4 linked regions of the Homo sapiens genome follow. The protein of the gene in region 1 purifies or fractionates together with the protein of each later gene. This does not show direct contact. Each region holds a gene or a part of one and is shown in the gene's direction. Other genes may lie near its edges.

The links.
Region 2: the proteins of SH3PXD2B (region 1) and EIF2AK2 fractionate together in Homo sapiens (co-fractionation; one large-scale study listed by BioGRID). This does not show direct contact.
Region 3: the proteins of SH3PXD2B (region 1) and RC3H1 fractionate together in Homo sapiens (co-fractionation; one large-scale study listed by BioGRID). This does not show direct contact.
Region 4: the proteins of SH3PXD2B (region 1) and PLPBP fractionate together in Homo sapiens (co-fractionation; one large-scale study listed by BioGRID). This does not show direct contact.

Annotation. Positions count from the first base shown.
Region 1 is NC_000005.10:172,336,263-172,339,525, reverse strand, and holds part of SH3PXD2B (SH3 and PX domain-containing protein 2B), read left to right. Parts: coding exon 1-1,157; 3' UTR 1,158-3,263. UniProt on the Homo sapiens protein: Adapter protein involved in invadopodia and podosome formation and extracellular matrix degradation. Binds matrix metalloproteinases (ADAMs), NADPH oxidases (NOXs) and phosphoinositides.
Region 2 is NC_000002.12:37,101,846-37,104,980, reverse strand, and holds part of EIF2AK2 (interferon-induced, double-stranded RNA-activated protein kinase), read left to right. Parts: 3' UTR 1-3,135.
Region 3 is NC_000001.11:173,977,358-173,980,857, reverse strand, and holds part of RC3H1 (roquin-1), read left to right. Parts: coding exon 1-49; intron 50-2,237; coding exon 2,238-2,370; intron 2,371-3,500. UniProt on the Homo sapiens protein: Post-transcriptional repressor of mRNAs containing a conserved stem loop motif, called constitutive decay element (CDE), which is often located in the 3'-UTR, as in HMGXB3, ICOS, IER3, NFKBID, NFKBIZ, PPP1R10, TNF, TNFRSF4 and in many more mRNAs.
Region 4 is NC_000008.11:37,765,645-37,769,144, forward strand, and holds part of PLPBP (pyridoxal phosphate homeostasis protein), read left to right. Parts: intron 1-66; coding exon 67-102; intron 103-635; coding exon 636-711; intron 712-837; coding exon of another isoform or gene 838-890; exon of another isoform or gene 891-2,134; intron 2,135-3,500. UniProt on the Homo sapiens protein: Pyridoxal 5'-phosphate (PLP)-binding protein, which may be involved in intracellular homeostatic regulation of pyridoxal 5'-phosphate (PLP), the active form of vitamin B6.

The DNA of each region.
Region 1 (3,263 bases):
AATCCATCATCAAGTCGGAGGGGGAGCTGCTGGAGCGGGAGCGGGAGCGGCAGAGGACGGAGCAGCTCCGGGGCCCCACTCCCAAGCCTCCGGGCGTGATTTTGCCGATGATGCCAGCCAAACACATCCCTCCAGCCCGGGACAGCAGGAGGCCAGAGCCCAAACCTGACAAAAGCAGACTGTTCCAGCTGAAAAATGACATGGGGCTGGAGTGTGGCCACAAGGTCTTGGCCAAGGAAGTGAAGAAGCCCAACCTCCGGCCCATCTCCAAATCCAAAACTGACCTGCCAGAGGAGAAGCCAGATGCCACTCCCCAGAATCCCTTCTTGAAGTCCAGACCTCAGGTTAGGCCAAAACCAGCTCCTTCCCCCAAAACGGAGCCACCTCAGGGCGAAGACCAAGTCGACATCTGCAACCTCAGGAGTAAGCTCAGGCCTGCCAAGTCCCAAGACAAGTCCTTGTTGGATGGGGAGGGCCCCCAGGCAGTAGGGGGCCAAGACGTGGCCTTCAGCCGAAGCTTCCTCCCAGGAGAGGGGCCTGGCCGCGCCCAGGACAGGACGGGCAAACAGGATGGTCTCAGCCCAAAAGAGATTTCCTGCAGAGCCCCTCCGAGGCCAGCCAAGACCACAGATCCTGTGTCTAAGAGCGTGCCTGTTCCTCTCCAAGAGGCTCCCCAGCAGAGACCTGTGGTCCCACCCCGCAGACCACCTCCCCCAAAGAAAACCTCTTCGTCATCCAGGCCGCTCCCAGAGGTCAGAGGTCCACAGTGTGAAGGCCACGAAAGCAGGGCAGCTCCCACCCCAGGCCGTGCTCTCCTCGTCCCTCCAAAAGCCAAACCTTTTCTCTCCAACTCTTTGGGGGGCCAGGATGACACGCGAGGCAAAGGCAGCCTGGGGCCATGGGGGACCGGCAAGATTGGAGAAAACAGGGAGAAAGCAGCTGCAGCCTCTGTCCCCAATGCCGACGGCCTGAAGGACTCTTTGTATGTGGCCGTGGCCGACTTTGAAGGAGACAAAGACACCAGCAGCTTCCAGGAAGGGACAGTGTTTGAAGTCCGGGAGAAGAACAGCAGTGGCTGGTGGTTCTGCCAGGTCCTGAGCGGAGCCCCTTCCTGGGAAGGGTGGATTCCTTCCAACTATCTCAGAAAGAAGCCGTAGCCGACTCCCTTTCTGCCTAGAGGGCCCGCTGGTCCTTGCTGGCTTTACCCACGTATTTAATACGCCTCTTAATTTATCATTCTCCACGCAGCTTCCAAGGCAGACAGACTCTGGGGTACTGTGACTTCTTGCCTCCCATGGGTGGAGAGTGAGTTTCGGACACCTCGGGCGCCCCTGGGCCTGATCCCTCCTATCACAGCATCACTGGAGGCTCAGAACCCACAGCCTTTGCTTTCTGTCCATGTCAGCATCCCTGCCTTAAGAGAACTCCTCCTGGCCAATGGCATTGCCACCCAGCAGTGGGACCAAGACTCTCCAAGACCTCCAGGACTGGATCCCATTGCCTGGAGAAACTCCAGCAAGGGTCTCTCATGGCTTGGACATGGCACAGTAAGGGGCAGCCAACCCAGTCCATGATGACTTTTGCTCCAACTTCTTCATGTTTCTAAAAGCCCAGTGGCTTTATTCACTCCTCCTAAATTGCCTGCTACCAGAAGGAACTTCATCCTGAAGAAATGCATTCCATTACCAGTTCCAGGGAAAGTGTCCCCTTCCCCAAAGCCTCAGGCCCGTGGGCCTCTGAGGTTCCACTGGATGCGGCTCCCCCAGGAGTGGGCCTGGAGATCCGCTCAGCCGCCCTGCCTCCCACCTTCTATCTTGGGACCGTGGTCAGCCCTGAAGGGTGGTTCCAGCCCCGCGTATGCTGCGCTTTGCTGCTGCAGGCTCCGGTCCCTCCAGGGCTTTTCAATGAGAGTTCCCACCCCAACTTGGAGCATTTCATTTTTGCCTACCTAAAGCAAGAATCTCAAAGTTTGTTTGAATAAGAGGCCCATTCACAAGTCGTGCCCTTGTGAGCACCCCTTTGCTGAGTGCCTCGTGGGTGCCAAACACTGTACTTGGCGCTTTGCATTCATGCTTTGACCCTCACAACCTCCCTTTATAGATGAGGAAATTCACGCTCCATGTGCCCAAGGACACACCAGCCAGGAGGAAGAGGGAAGAGGATTTGAGTCCAGGCCTGCCTGACTTCAGTGCCTGTGCCCTCCCCTCTGTAAAAGACAAACCAGGCAGGGAAGAGATAGAAGCTGGCTAAGTGGTGGCCAAGTGGCTTCATTGTGAGGGGGGTGAGGGGGCATTCGTGGCTGCTCCCACACCCACCATCCCTCCAGCCCACAGCAGCCTATACCAAAGGCTGCCCTGGACTCAACAGCTGCATCTCCATGACAGGAGAATGCCAGGGTCCTGGTGGTTGACACAGAGCCCTGTTCCCTCTTCTAAGCTGTTGCCCCCTGGGGAATAGAGCTTATGGAGCAACGGGAGCTGAGGTGGCCTCGAGGGCCAGCCTGGAGGGCTCTGAGCATAGCATGCAGCGGTCCCATAGGGAGGCAGGTAACCAAGGGCCAGGCAGAGCTGCTTCCTGTGCCTCTCCGGCATTTGTAATGTTTTTTTCTTTTTTCACGCACTGCCAAATCTGTTTTCTCCCTTGAAGAAACCCAGGGCAGATGTGGTCATCTGTCAAACTGAGGTCTGGAGAGGCATGACTAAATCACTGCAGAAGCAAAATCAGGACCCAGCATTTCTAGCTCCCAGCCCAGAGTAAGAGAGCAGAGCAGAACCCCTTCCCATTCTACCCGACCGAGGCAGCCCTGCCCTGCCCTGCCCCGCCCCTCCCCACCCTGCCCTGCCCCAGAGATCTCCAGTTCACAGTGTTCATCAGGCGAGATACTTTTGGACCCACAAAGCCAGTTTTTTGGGGGGATGCTCAGTGTCTACCTGCAGTGCCAAAGTTTTGCTTGAACAGCCCTCTTCTGCCGCGCCTCCCAGCTCCACCCCCTATCACGTGGGTGCTGGCTGCTTCTGCGTGAGGAGCTTCCTCTGATCACCTGTAGCATCTTTAGTGCCTTCGTCCAGTCGGCCTGCAAATCCCATTTCCCAGAGAGGCTTGGGCAGGGCCCACTTGCCACTTGGCCCTGTGCCCAGAGCGTTGGGGGCAGATGGCAGCCAGGGGAAGAAGGGAGGTGGGGAAGGGCCGCCACCGCTTGAGGGTCCCCTCCCTTGAGAGGAGGCCCCATGGCAGTTTTCCTGAGTTCTTGATCCACTTTGGTT
Region 2 (3,135 bases), on another chromosome or scaffold:
AATCCTACAGAAGAGGTATCAATTATACAGGGGAAAATGTACCTTTACAATGGTCACCACAATAACCAAGTGATTCAATTTAGCATCACCCAAGGTGGAACACCCTAACATTATGCCCCTCCTGATGTGACTTAAGAATTTTACCTATTTAGTTTTCTTGCACAAAGTGTTAAACTGGAATTTAATCATGAGGAAATTATTAGACAAATCCTGAATGTAGTCATTCTATAAGATGATTGACTTGGGCTTCTCAAAAAGTCAGTGTCATGAAAAAAAAAAAAAGGGGAGAGACTTGTAAGATACAATGACCAAATGCAATGTTTGAATCTTTATTGTATTCTGGATATTTAAAAAGACAAAAGCTGGACGCAGTAGCTAATGCCTGTTATCCCAGCATTTTTGGGAGGTCAAAAGGGGAGGATGGCTTGAGCATAGGATTTTGAGACTAGCCTGGGCAACACAGTGAGTTCTCATCTCTACAAAAAATCAGAAAATTAGCTGGGCATGGTAGTGTGCATCTGTGGTCCCAGCTACTTGGGGGGGTGAGGTGGGAGGATCACTTGAGCCTAGGAGGTCAAGGCCGCAGTGAGCCATGATCATGTTACTGCATTCCAGCCTGGGTGACAGAGTGAGATCATATCTAAATAATAATAATAATAAAAGAAAGCAACAACCCAGCAAACAGCTATAAAGATATCTTCGGGACAATTGAGAACATTTGAATATAGACTGCATATTAGATAACAATGCCAAATAACTGTTTTCTCAGGTGTGATAATAGTATATGTAGAAAATGTCTTTTTGTTTTGTTTTATTTTGTTTTTGTTTGTTTGTTTGTTTTGAGACAGAGTCTCACTGTGTCGCCCAGGCTGGAGTGCAGTGGCACGATCTCGGCTCACTGCAACCTCTGCCTCCCAGGTTCAAGTGATTCTCCTGCCTCTGCTTCCTGAGTAGCTGGGATTACAGGTATCTGCCACCACTCCAGGTTAATTTTTTCTATTTTTAGTAGAGACGGAATTTCACCATGTTGACCCAGCTGGTTTTGAACTCCTGACCTCAGGTGATTCACTTGCCTTGGCCTCCCAAAGTGTTGAGATTACAGGCATGAGTCACTGCACCCAGCCAAAAATGTTTTTTTAGGCAATGCATGCACAAACATTTAGAGGCCAAGTGTGTCATGATGTCTGCAACTTTCAATGTTCAGCAAAAATCAACATGGAGAGAGAAAGAGGGCACACATGTGGCAAAATATTAGCCATTGTACAATTGGTAAATCTAGATGACAGTACACAGGTGTTTGTTGTATTATTCTTTGAACTTTTCTGTAGATTTGGAAATGTTCTGCGTAGAGAGAAATCTTTTTTTAAAAAAACAATATCTGGTTTTGATTAATGAGGCTATATTCAAAAGAAACACTAAATGATGTGGCCAGTTAGTGAGAATGTAGCCTTATCTTTACTGACCTCATTTTAATATTCCTACTCTGGCTGGGCATGGTGGCTCACGCCTATAATCCCAGCACTCTGGGAGGCCGAGACGGGTGGATCACCTGAGGTCAGGGGTTCGAGACCAGCCTGGCCAACATGGTGAAACCCCATCTCTACTAAAAATACAAAAATTAGCTGGGTGTGGTGGTAGGCGCCTGTAATCCCAGCTACTCGGGAGTCCGTGGCAGGAGAATCGCTTGAACCCAGGAGGTGGAGGTTGCAGTGAGCTGAGATCACGCCATTGCACTCCAGCCTGGGTGACAAGAGCAAAACTCAGTCTCAAAAAAAAAAAAGAAAAAAAAAGATATATATATTCCTACTCTTATTAAATGAATATAGCATTTCTTAGCAACTTCTTTTGATTTGTGAGTATATATTTTCTTGGCCTCAAAATTAAAGTAAAAAGTATCCTCTTACTCAGAGGAGGACAGGGGCAAGAGCCTGGGACCTTATTTGCTAATTAAAATGCACACACACACACACACACACAGAAATTTTGAGAGCCATTTTAATATAATTGCCTCCCTAGAAACATACCTTTTAGGGAATTTTTATCACTAAACCACATGTTATTTAAATACGTACATGTTTAACATAAATACATACATAAAATTCACATGCATACTTAACACTTATGTTAAATATATTCAATGTATATACATATGTACACAATATATGCATATATACATGTGGGTATGTGGTATGTGTGCATGTGTGTGTATGGCCAGCTACATAATTTGTGGGACTAAGGGCAAAATGAAACTGTACGGCCCTCGTTCAAAAATTAGGTGTGGGGTGCTTCTAAGCACAGTCTTGTGCAACTGCACAGGTTGCATGTCCATGAAGCCATCCTGTGTGTGTGCACATATGTGTATGAATATGTATTTTATATAATACATATATATGCATGTATGTATCTGAGAAGAAATGTTTAAAAGGCTACATACAAGCTTTTCCAGGTCTCTACTATCTGTTAACTAACTAGAGACATAACTCACAATATGCAGTCCCCACTGAGTGTTCACCATAATTTGAGATTCTTGGCATGTTAACTTTTCATTATGGAATATTGAATAATTTCAATATTATTCATACATTTCTTTATGTTCAAACATACACAAAAATAGAATAATGAAACTCTACCCATCACCCAGCTGCAACAAATATCAATACTTTACCGTTCTTAATACATCTAACCCCTTACTTTTTGTTTGTTTCTTTTGGTGAAGTATTTAATTGTAATTTTTTTTTTAAGAGACAGGATCTCACTCTGTCACCCAGGCCAGAGTACAGTGGTACGATCACAGCTCCTTGTAACCTCGAACTCCTAGGCTCAAGTGATCCTCCTGCCTCAGCCGCTTGAATAGCTGGGACTACATGCATACACCAACACACCCAACTAATTTTTAAATTTTTTGTAGAAATATGGTCTTGCTGTGTTTCCCAGGCTGGTCTCAAACTCCTGGCCTTGAGAGATTCTCCTGCCTTGGTCTTCCAAACTGCTGGGATTACAATATCCGGCCCTACTGGAATATTTTAAAGTAAATCTCAGGTGTTACATCATTGCACTTGTAAGTACTTTAAAATGTATCTCTAGCAGATAAATCTTTTTAACAAAACCACAGCATCATTGTCACACTCAAAAAAT
Region 3 (3,500 bases), on another chromosome or scaffold:
TTATGGAGACCAGTCTCACAAATCTCATATGCAGTCCATTATTGACAAGGTAGGACCTTTTTTGTTCCTTACTTCTTAGACTAATCTTGGCATTTTGGTAATTCATTTAACAAATGTATATTAAAGTGAATACTGTATAGCTTTTGTAAATTGTATTTATAGCCAGTGTCATGTCATAACCAATCACGTTATAATACCACTTTGTTCATTTAAAGATTTGATTAGTTTATATTTTTTATTTTACTTATTTTATATTTTATTGTATTTTTACTAGAATCACAGAGATGAAGGCCAACTCTAGAGACCACTCTACATTTAATTTAGAGAAATAGAGTCAAATAGTAAGAGTAACCTAAAAAAAAAATAATGAACATTTACTAAAATCTTAATATGTATCTAGTGGTTTTAAATAATTCATTTAATCCTCTCAACAGCCCTGTATTATCCATTTTAGACAAAGACAAAGGGAAGTTAATATGTTTTTCCAGCATCACATAGATAATAAATGACAGAAGTGGATTTGAACTTGACCATTCTCAGTGTAGAGTACACTAACCTTTTACCAGACTATTCCCCCCCACCTTTTTTTTTTTTTTTTTTTTCCTATTTCTAAAGATAGAATTCCTTGAATGGGTAATACAGTGAGAATTGGGAAATATGTTTTTTAAATGCTTGGTGTAGGGTGGGCACAGTGGCTGATGCCTGTAATCTCAGCACTTTGAGAGGCCAAGGTGGGGGGATTGCTTGAGGCCAGGAGTTCAGTCACAGCCTGGGAAACATTGGGACACTCATCTCTACCAAAAAAAAAAAAAAATAGCCAGGTGTGGTGGTAGGCGCCTATAGTCTCAGCTACCTGGGAGGCTATGGTGGGAGAATCCCTTGAGCTCAGGAGTTTGAGGGTGCAGTGAGCTATGTTAGCACCTCGGCAACAGAGTGAGACCCTGTCTCTTTAGGGGGGATAAAAAGGCGGTACATAATTTTCAGTTACAATGTAGGTTGTTTGCTCTGCTCTATAAGTCTTCCCTGGATACCTTTAACCAGACTTTACCTGCAACTCTTAGGTTTGGACAGGAGCTTGTATCGGAAGTTTTGCAACTCATTTATAATTTACGGAAACGCTTAACGCTTAGTAATGATCTATTAGAGGAGTACCTTTCTACCTCTGAAGAGAAACTTGGCTTTTTTTGTTTGTTTGTTTGTTTGAGACAGAGTCTCACCCTGTCACCCAGGCTGGAGTGCAATGGCACTATCTCGGCTCACTGCAATCTCTGTCTCCCAGGTTCAAGCGATTCTCCTGCCTCAGCCTCCCAAGTAGCTGGGATTACAGGCACGCACTACCACACCCTGTACCACGCCCAAATTTTTTGTATCTTTAGTAGAGACGGGGTTTCACCATGTTGGCCAGGCTGGTTTCGAACTCCTGACATCGTCATCTGCCCACCACAGCCTCCCAAAGTGCTAGGATTACAGGCGTGAGCCACTGTGCCTGGCCTGGCTTGGCTTGTCTTTTATAAAGATTCTACAAGGTGGTTAATCTTGTCTGAACTGAACTGTGTAACTAGGTGTATATCCTACAGTAATTTTCTCATATCACACGCAGTGCTTTAAATTTAATATCCAGAGACCTTTGCACAACAAACTGGTAAACTTTGCAGTGTGTGTGATATTTTATAGAGCAATAGAACTTTCTGTAATCATGAAAATGTTCTGTGTATGCACTGTCCAATATGGTGATCACTAGTCACACACGGCCATTAAGCATTTGAAATGTGACTTTTGCAACGGATGAACTGAAATTTTTATTTCATTTAATTAACTTAAATTTAAATAGCCACATATTGCCAAGGTCACCATATTGGATAATAGAAAAGAGAATTTATTAAAAGCGATGAGGAAAGCACTAATTCTAGTAAATTAATGGGGAGAGAAACAGGAATTAACAATTCACAAAGAAGACTCATCAGTATATCTAATTGATGGTAGGCTGAATTGAGAGAGGTCTCACATTTGAAGAATGTGACAGCAGAGGCAATACAGTACACAATGTGCCAAGCTCTGGATGCAGAGAAGTACAGAATTTATTTGGGTAGCAAGTAATCTACTCTGGCCAAAGTGTAGGGTATATGGGAAGATAAAAATTAAATTTAATAAATCGCAAAAATGATTGTGATATAAATAATCTTTATATTTAAAGGATTATCTGACCTTTGGGAAAGTTAACATTTATCTTTTTTAAGTTGCAGACTCCAGCCTCTTTTGCACAGAGTGTTCAGGAACTAACAATTGCTCTCCAGCGAACTGGAGACCCAGCAAACTTGAACCGACTAAGACCCCATTTGGAGCTGTTAGCAAACATTGACCCTAGTCCAGGTAAACCCACGGGAAATTAATGGACTATCTTATATGTGCCTTTCGTGCTGCTCAATGATTCTTTAATTATCTTTTGTTGTTCCTCTAGGGTTTCCCAAAGTAGTTACTCCAGATCTTTTTTACAGTATTTTAAGTTTCCATTTTAAATCTTTTCCCTCTTTATCTCAGGTTAGTTCACTTTAATATTTATTTAATACTTTTTATACTGTTGCTCATTTCATCAGGAAAATAGATTTCTCTGGGCTTCTTTATGTTTCTTCTTTCTCCCGTCACAAAATTGTGTTGTATTTTACCATTCTTACCTCTTCCAAATCTCGTTTTTCTCATTTTTTTCTGTATTATGTATCCTTAGTTGCATTTCCTTGATCCTGTTTTTGCCCTCTCCATGATATCTTGTTCCTTCAAGTATCCTGTCTTGTATATCTTTACTTAGGCTTTTTCTGCTCCTTCTCCGTAACCTGAAAATATACCCAACCTTCATTTTTCAACTTGCACTTACATCTAAGTTATTTTAGCTTCTCTGTGTTTATTCCTACTACTGATCTGAAGCTCTCTTAATATTCACTAGTAGATTCCCAGTCTCTGATTCCAAAAGCTTTGTCTTAGTCTTTAAATCACTCCCATTTGTTTTCAGCATTTCGATAATGTTGTTGAGCACTTTTTTGATATCTTTCTGTGATCTCATAGTTCTCTTCTGACCTGAGTGCTACTTCTGTCTTATTTGTACCATGCCTTCCCCTCCTGCCCACTAAAGAGTAGGCAGGTTATGCTCTTGGAATTTTGTTTTCTCTACATGCTCTGATGGTGGTTATTCATTCTTAGCATCAGGTATTACCTTAGTGTAGAATACAGACTCCCAAATATCTCTATCACTATTATCTCTGCATCACTCCAGATACATCTCCCAGTGCTTGCTGAGATTCCCCATCGTGTCCTCTGAGTGCTTCAAAGCAAGCTCATCATTTCTTGATACTTGCTCTTCCTTTAATGTTTCCTCTTTCTGATAATGACCTCATTCTCTGAGGTATGTAAGTTTAAAACCTTAATGTTTTGTCTTGTCTCATCTTTTCCTTTCACTTGTTCTACATACTGTTTCATACAATGGGATTTATCTGTTCTTCTTTCACAAT
Region 4 (3,500 bases), on another chromosome or scaffold:
TTCCTGAAGCCCTTTGGAAGCATCATGATTGCCAGGCTTCTGACTTGTTCTGTTTTGACCTTTTAGGTTCAGGAACTGCTAGAAAAAGCATCAAATCCCAAAGTAAGTAGATAGCTGAATTCTTTAATTTGTATCTAAATCTTGGCTCTTTAGTTGAAAATTAGACCCATCCTGGTGGTTGAGTTGTACAGCAGTTTTAGGGTGGTTGACTTTAGATTGGGCCAGGGATAGAAATGTCAGCTTCCTCCTTGAGCCCCAAGTAATTCTCAGCTAGATTTTTCTCTTTGTTCAGACTGTCGTTTTCTCATTGGTGGCTGTTTGGAAATGGTGGTTTCAGGAGCTTGCTGTAATCTTGGATCTTTTCAAGATTTGAAAGCTTAAATCAGTTCATCCTAGATGGGCAATATCTGAAAGATGGAGGGAATTGATGGGAACAAGGAAGGAAAACAGAACAGAAGCCTTAGATTTTTCTCTATCCTTTTACCTCATTAGGAGGCCGGGTGAAGATTGTGATAGTTTATTACATTTAAGGAACAGAGAGTGGATGTGAAAGGTGACAGGGAGTGCACGAGGCGTTTGAGCCAGCAAGGCCTCTATAAAATCTGAATTACACATGGTTACCTTTTTCCCCTCAGATTCTGTCTTTGTGTCCTGAGATCAAATGGCACTTCATTGGCCACCTACAGAAACAAAATGTCAACAAATTGATGGGTAAGATAAAATTAAATATGAAAACAAAATTGTTCTGTCATTGTATTGCTTCTACTACCCTTTGTGGAAGAGAGAGCAACTTTTAGAATAGCCCCAATTCACCATTTGTTTTTGGAATTTCTTTAGGAAAGTCTGAGTTCTTAATAAAAAGAGAAAACATCATGCCAAGAACAGAATGAATTCACCATTTTCTGGGTTATATATACTTGGAAACCTACCCAACCTCATGTTTATTATTATTTGGTGGTCTTTCAGAAAAATTATAAAGAATTGTAGCCCATAAATTTTTTTAACTAGCAAAAGAGACATTTCTGTTCTTTTTCCTTTAAATAAAAGGCTACAGTAAATAAAATACAATACAGTAAAGTAAGTATAGTAAAGTAAAATTAAGAATTATAGTAAAGTAGGCCAGGCGCGGTGGCTGACACCTATAATCCCAGCACCATGGGAGGCCGAGGCAGGCGGATCACCTGAGGTCAGGAGTTCAAGACCAGCCTGGCCAACATGGTGAAACCCCAACTCTATTAAAAATGCAAAAAAATAGCTGAGCGTGGTGGTGCATGCCTGTCAAGTCCCAGCTACACAGGAGGCTGACGCAGGAGAATCGCATGAACCCGGGAGGCAGAGGTTGCAGTGATCCAAGATCACGCCACTGCACTCCAGACTAGGTAACAGAGCAAGACTTCATCCCAAAAAAAAAAAAAAAAAAAAAAACAAGAATCATAGTAAAATAAAATTAAGAAAGACATGGAGATCTTGAGTAACTGAACTTATTTCCCTTAAGGTATAAAAATTTAAATAACCTGTATATATTTTGTAACAGCTTTATTAGGGAGGTAAGTGACTTACAATACATTGCACATATTTAAAGTATAGAATTCGACGAGTTTTGATGTATGTTTGCACCTGTGAAACCATCACAACAAACAGTGAGCATATCTATCACCCCTAAAAGTTTCCTCCTGTCCCTTGGTAATCCCTCTCTTACCTGTCCCACTTCTCTTCCTCAAGAACCACTTACCTGCTTTTGTCACTGTTAATGTACGTGAGTTTACATTTTTTAGAGTTTTATCCAAAGGGAATCATGAAGTATGTACTCTTTTTTGTCTGACTTCTTTCATTCAGTGTAGTGATTCATCATGTTCATACCTGTATCAAAGGTTCAATTCTTTTTATCATTCAGTAGTATTCCATTGTATAAGTATATTACAATTTGTTTATCCATTCACCTGTTGATGAATGTTGGGTTGCTTCTGATTTTTGACTGTTGCAAATAAGTTGCTATGAATATTTGTGTACGAGCCTTTGTATGGATATATTTCCCTTTTTCTTGGAATAAATATATAGGAATAGAATGGCTGAATCACAAGTTAAGTGTTATGTTTAACTTTTTATAACTGCAATAAAACAAACATAAAATTTACTGTCTTGATCTTTTATTTACTTTTTTTTTTTTTTTTTTTTTTTTGAGATGGAGTCTCGCTCTGTCGCCCAAGCTGGAGTGCAGTGGCGTGATCCCGGCTCACTGCAACCTCCACCGCCCGAGTTCAAGCGATTCTCCTGCCTCAGCCTTCCGAGTAGCTAGGATTACAGGCACATGCCACCACACCTGGCTAATTTTTTACGTTTTTAGTAGAGACAAGGTTTCATCATATTGGCCAGGCTGGTCTCGAACTCCTGACCTTGTGATCCACCCGCCTCAGCCTCCGAAAGTGCTAGGATTGCAGGCATGAGCCACCATGCCCGGCCTATTGATTTTCAAATGTTAAACCAACCCTGCACTCCTAGGATAAATCCTACTTGAAGGCTGGGTCTCTATTAATCTTATTATATGTCATATAAACAAAATAACTGTGTTATGGGATTTATAACTATGTAAAAGCAAAATGCATGACAACAATAACAGAAGGGGATAAACAGAAGTACACTATTGTAAAGTTCTTAAACTGTGTGAAGTAGTGTAACACACCTTGAAGGTGGACTGTTGTAAGTTAAACCCCAAAGCAACCAATAAAATAACACAATAAAGAGTTATAGCTTATAAGTCAACAAAGGAGATATATTGGACTCAAAAAATGTGAAATGGTATCTCCTTACAGTTTTGATTTTCTTTTTTTTTTTTTTTTTTTTTTTTTGAGACGGATTCTCACTCTGTTGCCCGGGCTGGAGTGCAGTGGTGCGATCTCAGCTTTCTGCAACCTCCGCTTCCCAGGTTCAAGCAATTCTTCTGCCTCAGCCTCCCGAGTAGCTGGGACTACAGGCGCCCACCACCACGCCCAGCTAATGTTTTTGTATTTTTAGTAGAGATGCGGTTTCACCATCTTGGCTAGGCTGGTCTCAAACTCCAGACCTCATGATCCGCCTGCCTTGGCCTCCCAAAGTGCTGGGATTACAGGCGTGAGCCACCACGCCCGGCGGTTTTGATTTTCATTAATAACGAATGATGTTGAGCATCTCTTCATGGGCTTATTGGCCATTTTTATGTCTTCTTTGGAAAAATGTCTAGTCAGTCCTCTGCATGTTTTTTAAATTGAGTTGTCTTTTCATTATTGAGTTGTAAATTCCAGCTAGATTAAATAATCTAACTTGAAAATAAAAGCTATAAAAGTATTAGAATAAAATGCAGGAAAATATTTTTATTTTCTTGGGCTTTTCTAAGCAAGACATAAAATCTGGAAACCATAAAAAAAACAACTAGGCCAGGCACAGTGGCTCACACCTGTAAATCTAGCACTTTGGGAGGCCAAGGCAGGTGGATCACTTGAGCCCAAGAGTTTAAGACCAGCCTG